Homo sapiens: one gene and its partners. The protein of the gene in region 1 purifies or fractionates together with the protein of each later gene. This does not show direct contact. Each region holds a gene or a part of one and is shown in the gene's direction. Other genes may lie near its edges. The genes, in order: RUVBL1, DPCD and ACTL6A.

Region 1 (3,652 bases):
CCTCGTCACTTCCATTCTGAATTAATTAGATTTCTCAGTAGCATCTGCCACCTTTCCAGTAATTACATCTTCAGTCAATTCATTTGGGAAATTAACCGATATAAAAATGCTTGAGGCAAAAAAGAAGTATATTCTCCAATGTAGGACAGATAAAATAAGGCGTACAGTTTAAATTTCAGCTATTTGTAACACTGCTTTGTACAGTTTCTTTACAAAAATAATGTAGAGGAGAAGATGAAATTTTTCTTCCAAAATGAATACTTTTAGGTATTTTTAGAATATGTACAAGATATTTGGATAGAAGGTGCTCAAATACTTGGTGGATATTCAAGTCTGAAGGAGTCTTCTGAGTTCTAGCAACGAGAATGCCATTAGTACTCATGACCCCTTCCTGCCAGGCCTTACCTGGGGGCCTCACCCACTTTTGTCCTTAGGCGCACAGACTCACAGCAGTTCTGCCAGGGTCTGCCGTCCCCACCCAGCTAAGGAGAGGCAGAACCCTGGGTTTGCTGCTGTGGTGGTAGTTTTTTAAAAGCTTTATTCAGATAGCATTTTAAATAAAACTCACCCATTTTAAGTATACAATTCCAGGAATTTTAATTTATTTTCACAGTTGTACAATCACCACAATCTTAATTTCAGAACATTTTCATCGCCCCAAAAAGAATCCTCCTACTCATTTACAGTCATTCCCCATTCCAACTATAGCCCTCGGCAACTACTAATCTACTTTCGGTTGCCTTCTTTTGGACATTTCATATAAATGGAACATACAGTGTATGTCTTTTTTTGTATCTGGCTTCTTTCACCAAGTCCTGGGTTTTCACTTTTTAATTTTGTTTGGGCAAAGCCCAAGTTTTTTTTCCACCATAGCTACATTGTATAACATAGATCTCCATGAAGACCTCGAGAAACTTGTGTTTAACTATAGAATCCTTACAAAGGCAGCTGTCCTAGAATATTAATCACTGAGGGTCACCAGAATCTGGAGAAAAGCAACAGTTCCGCAAATCTGCTTATTTCCTTTCCTGGAGATATAAGCAGGCAGACCCAAGGGCACAAACACTGGGATGTGAGTCAAAAGGCTTGGGAAAGATTCTCATTTATGTTTTTCTTTGAATTACTGTATACATCTGTGATTGCACCTGGGTGCTGTTGTATAGATGAGGAAACTTAGAACTGAGAACCTTATCCAAAATCAAAGGCCCTGCAAGATGCCAGCTTTGAGATTGGTAAGCAGGTGCTGGCAGGTACTTCAGTTGTGGAAAGTTCCACCCCACCTGAGGTGAGGCAAATGAAGGAGTGAAGTAGGGATGATGATTTCAAGAGGGGTGATAGGGCCTGTGGTCCTGTGGACAGTGGGGGCTGGGCCCACCCGTCTCACGGCAGCCAGGACCATCCTTATAAAAGCGCTGCTGCCAGTTTACAGCCTTTGGAATCAAGGGAAAGAGGAGAGTACGTGTCCCCTGTGTCCCTCTCATGCTCGTTACATAGGGATGCAGGTATGCTGGCCCCCCTATTTTCTCCCTGGTGTGCTTAGTCCCCCAGCCAGTCTGTTGTGTGGTACTTATGCATTCACACTCCTGCAGGTCCCAGTATTCATGCAAACGCAAAACAGGCTTTCTCCATGCACCTGCTAGCTACCTCAGATCCCTTACGGAAAGGTACCTTACATGGTGTCAGAAGGAAATGGAATATGTATTACACTTCTGATTTACATTTTTTTTTTTAGCTGGACCCCAGCATTTTTGAAAGTTTGCAGAAAGAGCGAGTAGAAGCTGGAGATGTGATTTACATTGAAGCCAACAGTGGGGCCGTGAAGGTAATGCCTTCCTTGGGACACAGCATTGTCCCTGATTTGTTTGCCATGAGAAGACCTAAGTGACAAGGGAGTTGCTTTCTTCAGAGGGTGTGGGGTGTGTGGGGAGGGGCTGGTGTCTGTTATGAGGCTGATGGAAGGTCAACTAGTGGCCCTTTATGTATAATAAAGTTTGCCTTCCCTTTATCTTCATTCTTTAACCTTCTCGCGATTAAAACAGATAGTCTGTTAGAAAAAATACTAAAACCTGTTCAGAGGGGGAGGACAGGGTGAGAAACCAAAACAACTTTAGTCACTTTCAAATTGAAATGTGCAGTGTATTTAATCTTCCTTTTATCTCTTTGGTATTTTCTTCCCAAGATATATGCATGTGGGAAGGAACGCTGCATTCGTTGGCATTCTTTTCTATCTGATTTTCAGGGTCCTGTACAGTGTTCCTCACTGTTTAATGGATGGGCATAATACTTCATATCATACAATAAATCATCCACCTACAAAAGAGTCTGAGCAGCTCCTCTGCCTCCAGTTAATCTACTGGATTTGGCCTTTATCAGGAATTGCATACAGTTAAAAGAAAGAAGGGAAAAAGGATTTTGGGAGAAAGTATCAGGTGTTTTTCAACCCAGTTTTTGGAGCCCAGCGATGAGCAGATAGCTCCCTTCTCTTGGCAGCAGGGGAGTGGGGCATATTTGGAGTTTGTCAAGTAGGCTGTCAGGCCTGCAGTGGGAACTGAGACCTTTATCTCACTTAGCCCTGTGCCATTTGGGGACTTGGCAGTGAAAACTTACCAGGCACTCATGTTTCTCTCTTTTTGCAGAGGCAGGGCAGGTGTGATACCTATGCCACAGAATTCGACCTTGAAGCTGAAGAGTATGTCCCCTTGCCAAAAGGGGATGTGCACAAAAAGAAAGAAATCATCCAAGATGTGACCTTGCATGACTTGGATGTGGCTAATGCGCGGCCCCAGGTACTGCCTCGATGCCTGGGTGATCTGGCACATTAGCCCTTTTGTATGTGTGTGGAGATCTGGGAATGAATTGTCAGAGTCTTGCTGCCTTTCTTGAGGTAGACGGTCCTTTTCTATCTGTAATGTTCAGCAATTAACATCGACATGAGCTACGAGGGACTCCTTTGTTCCCATTCAAATGCTCTAGTCACAGATGATTTCATGTGTATTGTTTCTTATCCCAGCCAAGCCTCTGGCCCTGAGCTAGCCAGCTTCCTCCATGGCTTCACTCCAGCAGTGGGCTCACACCTGGGATTTTCTGGGTGTTAATGGCAGGAGGGCAGGAGTGTTCTATGAGCCCTTTACAGGATTTCAGAAAGCCTAACAAAGCTCTTTCTTTCCCCCTGCTTAGCAAAAGCCACAGTGTTTTAGCTTTGAGCTGGTACTGTTGTCTGCTTCTCATACAGATGGATACTTATGCCTTGGCTAGTAAAGTGCAGGAAAGGATGTTATCACTATATGACATTTCTAGGAAATAGTGAATAGTCACTATTAGGGAATAGTTTGTTTTCTGACTTGAAATTTGATCCGTGGGTGTTTTGTTCCTTGGAGCTTTGGTCAAGAGATTACTGAAGACTCATCTTGGACCAACAGGTCCCCTTGGTTGGTGAAATGGCCATCCCCAAACTGACCTCCTGGGAGCCCTTGACCTGAGAAGAGTGCTGGGCTGGGAGTCAGAAGTCAGGAACTGTGTTGCTCCATCACTGACCAGCTTGGTTAATTTGTCACTTTGGGTCTCTGGGTTTTCTGTGGTTTGGGGTTCGGTTTTGAGTTCCCTCCTACTTGGCAAGGCAGTTTTGAGGACCAGACAGGAAACATTTGCTGCC
Region 2 (3,652 bases), on another chromosome or scaffold:
GAATATGACGAGAAGACGAGTGAACTACTTGGTAAGTGACAGAGGCTCCCAGTGGGCCTTTAGTAATACTTGGGGCTGACATAAGCACAATGAACACTCCTAGCCTTAGGCTTGAGGTAGGAGCCCAGATCAAATGTAGAGGCTGGGAGAGACGGAAGCCCTCGAGACAACAACGTTCCTGAGCATAATCTGGGCACCAAAAGTGGAATGCGAGTCCTTTTGACCAGTAAAATTCATCCCCACCCCTCACCCCAGACAAATGAGAGAGGGAGTAATTCTAAGATGTAGAGAAACAGTTGGGAAAAAACTTTACAGAGGAGGTGGTATTGGAAGTGAGCCTTGTAGGTTTAGGAGGGATAAGGGCAGACTTTCACAATTTGTTTTTCCTTGTTTTTTTGTTTGTTTGTTTTGTTTTCTAAAGCCACACCAGGAGCAAGCGAGTATCAGAGGCAGAGCTTCTGAGCTTGCCTCAAAGGCAACACTATAAAATATGGTCCTTATTTTGAAGAACATCTCAGTCAAAGAGGGTCAAAACAGTGATTTTGCAGCGTGGTCACTTTCATTCCTGCAGCGCCTTTCCTCTAAGAACAGGCTCATGGGTAGGGGCTCCAGCTCAGATTTCTGGGAATTATTTGATTTGTCCACTCTGTTCCCAGGTGTGCACATCAGCATTAACCAGCTTCCCAGAGCTAGGTGGCTGGCTCTTTGACCCAGGGCCCAAGGCTGTCAGCAGTGGGAGTTGGTCTCTTTATTAAGTTCCATCTGAAATGCTAAGACCAATGATGGAATCACAGGCTGGTTTATTTTCTTGTCATTATTCTTGGCTTTAATTTCTTCCTGGGCCTGATCGACAGGTAGTATTGGTGAGGGAATTTCTTTTTCCTTTTTTCTGACAGCTCATAAATGTCTAGAACCGACAACATGGATTACACGGGCTTGCATTCCCTCAGTCTCCAGTCTTAAAATGTTTGTCCTGCGCATGTTCAGTCGCACAGTGAAGTGTTGATCCCTCCTTATTATGAGCTGCTTGGGCTCCAGTCCCAGTTGGTTTAGTCTGGTGCTATTAAAAATCTTGATGTGTTTAGCATATGACACTGATTCGGTGGAAACCAATACAGTAGTAATATCCTCACAATGCATTGTAATTTATAGTGCTCCCAGGGGATGACAGCCTTGGAATGCCTAACAGGGGAGAACTTATGAAAGCAGAGGTCACGTGGACTAGCCACCACCATAACCAGGCCAGAGAATAGCCGCAGCTCCTCACTCCCAGCCCCCCGTGCCACTTCTCTACTCCTCCACACAGAGCAAATAAAACAGCTATAGCTGCTGCGGCTGTAAAAACAAACAAATAAAACCCAGGCCTCTTTGTTGTGCTTGGATATGAAACTGAAATTAAAAACAAGTCCAGGTTTCTTCATTTGTAGCACCATGTGCCCTGATATCCCTTATTAACCTGTCACTTCTCCTAGTGGCAGGTGGGGAATAGACCATGGCTTCCAAACTCCTCTTTCTTAAAAGCAGAAATGGAGAAGACTGTTCACAGGAGAACACTGTTTGGCTAAAGTTGACCTAATAATGATATTAATAGCGTGACTCTTACTGGGCACCATGCTAAGTGCTCTACGTGAATTACCTCATTTACTCGTCCTCGTTAAAGCCCTATGAGGTAGATACTCTTGTCTCCATTTTACATTTGGAAAAAATGGAAGCTCAAAGAGGTTAAGCACCTTGTTGAGAATTATGTAGCTAGTTTCTAAGCCAGGATTTAAGCCTAGTTCTGTCCAATTAAGAGCCCATGCTTTAGTCCTCAACAACATAGTGCTGGGAGTTGAGAACACTTAAATCCAACTTTCTTTTCTTCTTACTGTTTTTCTTTCCCCAGAAAGGCCTGAGTGTGGACTGATGGGCAGACAGGAGGACCTCACTTGAGCCACTGGGCCCAGCTCTAGAACAGCAGATCTTTTTCTTACTCTTCTTCCTATCCACCACTGCTGCCCTGGCAAAATACTCTCCATTATTAATTTTTAAGTATAAATAATCCCAGGGGTTGAGCTGGCTTTTGCTTGTGCATTCTATGAAGTAAAGTAGGGACATGGTTTTTGTGGCAATAAATAGGAATAGTTTCCATTTTTCTAGCTAAGTATACAAATTTGATAATTAGCCAAACCAGTTTTCTGTTAGAAAAATTCAAAGTAATTTACAGAGGAAGAATTGCCAATAGGTGTGCGTCAGTCTGGGACAGAGTTCCTCCCGTCGGTGTTAATAAGCATGTTAGTGTCCTGTTTTTTTCCTACCCTCTCAGTGCTATTCATTCCCACCCCCCACAATGATTGCTGCATGTATTCATAGAGGAAAAAACTGAAGGCCCCACAACAATGATCGGAACATCAAACCAGCCTGAGAAGAACACAGCATGTCCAAGGGGGCTGAGGCTGAAGGGCAGGCCATCCCCCAGCGATTACATTCGGATTACCGACTTAATCTGCTTTGGTATTTGACCGCCAGCCTAACCACCCCAGGCTGCATTTGGAGGATATTGAGCACTTTCATCCCCAAGCACTTCACTGGCTTTATAAATGACCCACTCGATTCCCTTCGGCCTCCTCTGGGATGGGACATGGCAGCTGTTTAATTGCCACATAGCAATGTTGCAGTGTTTTAAGGCAGAAAAGAAGAATCCTGCATCCAGTTGAAGCTGCAGGGAACATTTAGGGAAGGGGAATGTAATTATCCACATTGGAAGTGGGCCAGGGTTTGGAGCTTTGGGGAAAGAGGCCTTTAGGACTTCTACTTTCCAGCCCACCTGAAAGATGGGGCCTCCTTTCAGCAGTCTGGGACATCAGCCTGCTTCCTGCTGATTTAGGAAAAAGCCCCCAGGCGCCACCTCCTTTATATATTCCCCATCAGACTCTTCACCGGGGTGGAAAGTCTCTTTTCCAAGGTCTGGCTGGGGCTCAGCTGGGAAGATATGACAGCGTCCCGGGAAGCTGCCTCACACCAGTTTGGGTTTAACATATAATCAAATCAGAGTGACAGCAGATGGAAACAGTCTTCTGTTGCCGCAGGAGCCGTCCTTGAGTTCAGAAACAAAGACGGGGGCAAGAAAGACAAGACAAAGTGTGCATTTGTACATGTGTGTTCACACCCATGCACTTGTGCATAGGAAAAATAAGAAGGACTTCCCCAAAATCTTTTATTGGGTCTTATCTCTAGAGGGAATGGGAAAGGAGACTTTCTTCTACATTCTAACAAAGAATTTAATTCTCAAGGTGTTTAAACAAAAAATAAAGGTGAAGCAGCCAGAGGTGTCAAGTTCCCTGAGTGGTTTTTAAGGTCAGAAGTAAGGAAATCAGCAGCTGACTTTCTTCCTTCTTTGAGTACTTCTTGGGAAGTTTTCTGTGTAAAACTCAAAATTTTTTGGAGTAAAAGTGCACAGAAAACCCTGGGGTGGTTGTCGTCCCTCCAGGCCACCTTGGTGCATTATTATGCATTAGGACACCCATTTTAGCAAGGCCCATGACTTACAGGGGCACCTCACTTATCCAGCCCTAGGTCGTGAGGTAGTCCTCATAATTTACTTTTTCAGATAATCAAAGCTTACCCTTTAAAGGCCAAATATAAAAAATAAATTGAGCTACTTAAAAAAAAA
Region 3 (3,652 bases), about 51 Mb from region 1:
AATTCCCTTTAATAAGTAAACTGAAATTACCCAGTTTTAGTGTACCATTTCTTAACTGATTGAACCTCTACTTAAATACGGTGTATGCCTTGTTATATTTTAATTAAATGATTCTTTAAGGTGTATTTGAAACTAGGTTCAAGTGAGTAATAATATGAATATAATTGGGCTGAGTGCAGTGGCTCATGCCTGCAGCACTTTGGGATGCTGAGGCAGAGGATTGCTTGAGCCCTGGAGTTTGAGTCCAGCCTGGGCAACATAGTGAGACCTTATGTCTACAAAAAATTTAAGAAATTCATTGTAGTCCCAGCTATTTGGAAGACTGAGGCGGGAGGATTGCTTGAGCCTAGGAGGTTGAGGCTGCAGTGAGCTGTGATTTTCATATGATACTTTTGCAAGCTGTTAATGCTAATTATCTTTAATCTTTTCAGATGAAGTTGGAGCCCTTGTTTTTGACATTGGATCCTATACTGTGAGAGCTGGTTATGCTGGTGAGGACTGCCCCAAGGTAAGTGTAATGTTAGAGTTAATTGGATATGTAAAGCCATTCATGTAAATTAAATTTATGCAGAAATTCTGATTCAAAACAAAATATAATAAAATACATTAATTGGGGAAAAAATGCCTTCTTGATGAAAGGTGAAACTTGTATGTCATGTTTCTGACTCTTACAGGTGGATTTTCCTACAGCTATTGGTATGGTGGTAGAAAGAGATGACGGAAGCACATTAATGGAAATAGATGGCGATAAAGGCAAACAAGGCGGTCCCACCTACTACATAGATACTAATGCTCTGCGTGTTCCGAGGGAGAATATGGAGGCCATTTCACCTCTAAAAAATGGGATGGGTATGATGTTTTCCCCATGGAATTGATTATGGAGTGTACATGTTATATTTTAGATACAAAGTAGTAGCTTCCTATAAGTTGAACATCAACCATGGTTTTTTGTTTTGTTTTGTTTTTTATTCCACAAACTGATTTCCAGACACTGAGAATACAAAGATGCATAAGAAATGTTCCTTTTCATTAAAAGCTTACAGTTAGTTGGGGGAAATAGATGTATATATACAAATAATGGTACACTGTGGGATAAGTGGTACAATATAGGTATGTGCAATGAGCAATGGGATTAGAGAGGAGAGGTATTTGACTCTAGTGTTGGGAGTCAGTGATGGTTTTCACAAAGGAGGTAACATGATGAATCTTGATCAATGAGTAAGAATTAGCTTGGCTGACAAAGCTGGGTAAAGCAAAGGGACCAGCATGTGTGAAGGGATGGAATTGTGAAAGAAACTTATGTGCTTGAAAATGTAATACAATTAAGTATGGTTGCAGCATTGGGCTTATTAGGGTCAGTAGCAGGAAAGGTAGGCAGAGAGCAGTAGCAGGAAAGGTAGGCAGGGAGCAGTCATAAAAGGGCTTGTAAACCATCCCAGGGTTGTATTAAGCTAGTGACTGAAGGATAACCCCAAAGGAATTTAAACAGATGTGATGGTCAGAGTCCAGATGAGAAATGAAAAAGGTTTAAACTATTATATAATGCTGGTAGAGATTCTGAAGGGACTTTCAGGGTAACCAGGAGACAAATGGTACTAAATGATCGAGGGAGTGAAAGCAAGAGAGAAGTTGAGAAAGTTTCCTAGATTTTTGGTTGGGGTAACTCTGAACAGAGAGTACCATGCATTGAGATAGGAATATAAAGGGAAGGAGCAAGTGTTACGGTTTTAAAAGGCATGGTTGGCCATGCGTGGTGGCTCGCGCCTATATAATCCCAGCACTTTGGGAGGCTGAGACTGTGGGTGGATTGCTTGAGTCTAGGAGTTTGAGACCAGCCTGGGCAACATGGCGAAACCCCATCTCTACTAAAAATACAAAAATTTGACAGGTGTGGTGATGCGTACCACCTGTAATTCCAGCTACTTGGGAGGCTGAGGCATGAGAATCACTTGAACCCAGGATGCAGAGGTTGCAGCTGAGATCTCATGACTACACACCAACCTGGGTGACAGAGTGAGACTCTGTCTCAAAAAAAAAAACAAAAAAAAAAAACAAGCTTATCAGGGATAGCCAAAATCACTCTCAGGTTCAATTATTCACCAGCAAGACTCACTCACAGGACTCAGCATATGGTTGTATTCACAGCTAAGATTTATTGTACTGAAGATTCAGATACAAAACAAAATCGACAAAGGGAAAAGGGACAGGGGATGATGAAGTCCAGATACAGGCTTTGGAGAGTCTTCTCACAGTGGAGTCACACAGGATGTGCTTAATCCCTCCAGCAACAAGTTATGATCTGTGTTACCTTCCAGGAGAACTCTGAGGCTCAGTACCCAAGGATTTTACAGAGGGCTGGTTATGTAGGTACCATCTACCTGGCATGTAACAAAATTTTAGATTCTCAGAAGGAAAGCAAGTGTTCAGAACAAACCACATTGTATAAACAGTGTAGGTATAGCGAGCTACCCTTACCATTTAGGGACAAGTTTTATATGAACATAGGGAACTGTTTGCCAGTCATGTTTCCAGACACCAGCTAAGAGTCAGCCTTACAAGCAGGCCTTTCTCAGGCTTGCAGTGTTAACTCTTTCATGTGTAGTAAGTAAATGGGTTCACTGAGTTCAAAGTACTTAGAACATCCAGGTGATAATTCAGTAAACGGGAATAAAAGGTTATAAGAAAGATTTTAAGACATGGAGTTGCATTTTATTACTCTGAAAAAAATTGGAACATGAGAAGAGGATTGAAGATGGAGTTCTAGCAAAAACTTGTTGTATATTTTAACCAATAGAGAATAAAAGGTACCCTTGAAGGAGAAAGAAAGGGAACAATTAGGGATGTAGGAAAAAAAGCAGGGGAAGAACAAGAAAAGAAAAAGTTTCTGGAAGCATAAAATTCCAGTTATTCTCGGTGTTTTCTGCTGTGACATTGAAAGCTTTACACTAAGAAAGAAGTTAAAAAAATCCAGGTGGGCCTGTGGAAATATATAATTAATGACATTTTTTCTTTGGGCTGTGACAGAAAAGTTTGTAAACTCTTGTGTAGGCAATACTGTCATAATTTAGAGAAGTCAGATGAGATTAAAAATGTTAAGTATCCATGAATTTGCCTAGTAGAAGGTCATTAGTGGCTGGGGGCGGTGGCTCACGCCTGTAATCCCAGCACTTTGGAGGCTGAGGTGGGTGGATCACCTGAGGTCAGGAGTTCGAGACCAGCCTGGCCAACATGGTGAAACCCTGTCTCTACTAAAAATGCAAAAATTAGTTGGGTACGGTGGCGGGCACCTGTAATCCCAGCTACTCGGGAGCCTGAGGGAGGAGAATTGCTTGACCCCAGGAGGCGGAGGTTGCAGTGAGCTGAGATTGTGCCATTGCACTCCAGTGTGGGGGACAGAACGAGACTCCATCTCAAAAAAAAGAAAAAAGAAGGTCATTAGTGACTTATGTCAGTAGTTTTAATGGAATGTTTAGGTGGAAGCCAAATTGAAGACAGATGCTCTTCTTTGAATTTTTAACATGTCTTTTAGTCTTTTTCCAAATAGATTGTAAGTTTTTTTGAGTGTCGGGTCTAGACCATACAATTCTTTCTTTTTTTTTTTTTTTTATAAATCCAGCAGTAGTATCATCAGAAGGCCATACAATTCTTCTGT

What was found.
Region 2: the proteins of RUVBL1 (region 1) and DPCD purify together in Homo sapiens (affinity purification with mass spectrometry; 7 studies listed by BioGRID and IntAct, with this or other methods). This does not show direct contact.
Region 3: the proteins of RUVBL1 (region 1) and ACTL6A purify together in Homo sapiens (affinity purification with mass spectrometry; 11 studies listed by BioGRID and IntAct, with this or other methods). This does not show direct contact.

Annotation. Positions count from the first base shown.
Region 1 is NC_000003.12:128,099,729-128,103,380, reverse strand, and holds part of RUVBL1 (ruvB-like 1), read left to right. Parts: intron 1-1,732; coding exon 1,733-1,822; intron 1,823-2,636; coding exon 2,637-2,786; intron 2,787-3,652. UniProt on the Homo sapiens protein: Possesses single-stranded DNA-stimulated ATPase and ATP-dependent DNA helicase (3' to 5') activity; hexamerization is thought to be critical for ATP hydrolysis and adjacent subunits in the ring-like structure contribute to the ATPase activity.
Region 2 is NC_000010.11:101,594,708-101,598,359, forward strand, and holds part of DPCD (protein DPCD), read left to right. Parts: coding exon 1-31; intron 32-1,885; coding exon of another isoform or gene 1,886-1,932; exon of another isoform or gene 1,933-3,307; intron 3,308-3,652. UniProt on the Homo sapiens protein: May play a role in the formation or function of ciliated cells.
Region 3 is NC_000003.12:179,569,393-179,573,044, forward strand, and holds part of ACTL6A (actin-like protein 6A), read left to right. Parts: intron 1-431; coding exon 432-508; intron 509-674; coding exon 675-849; intron 850-2,130; exon of another isoform or gene 2,131-2,378; intron 2,379-3,652.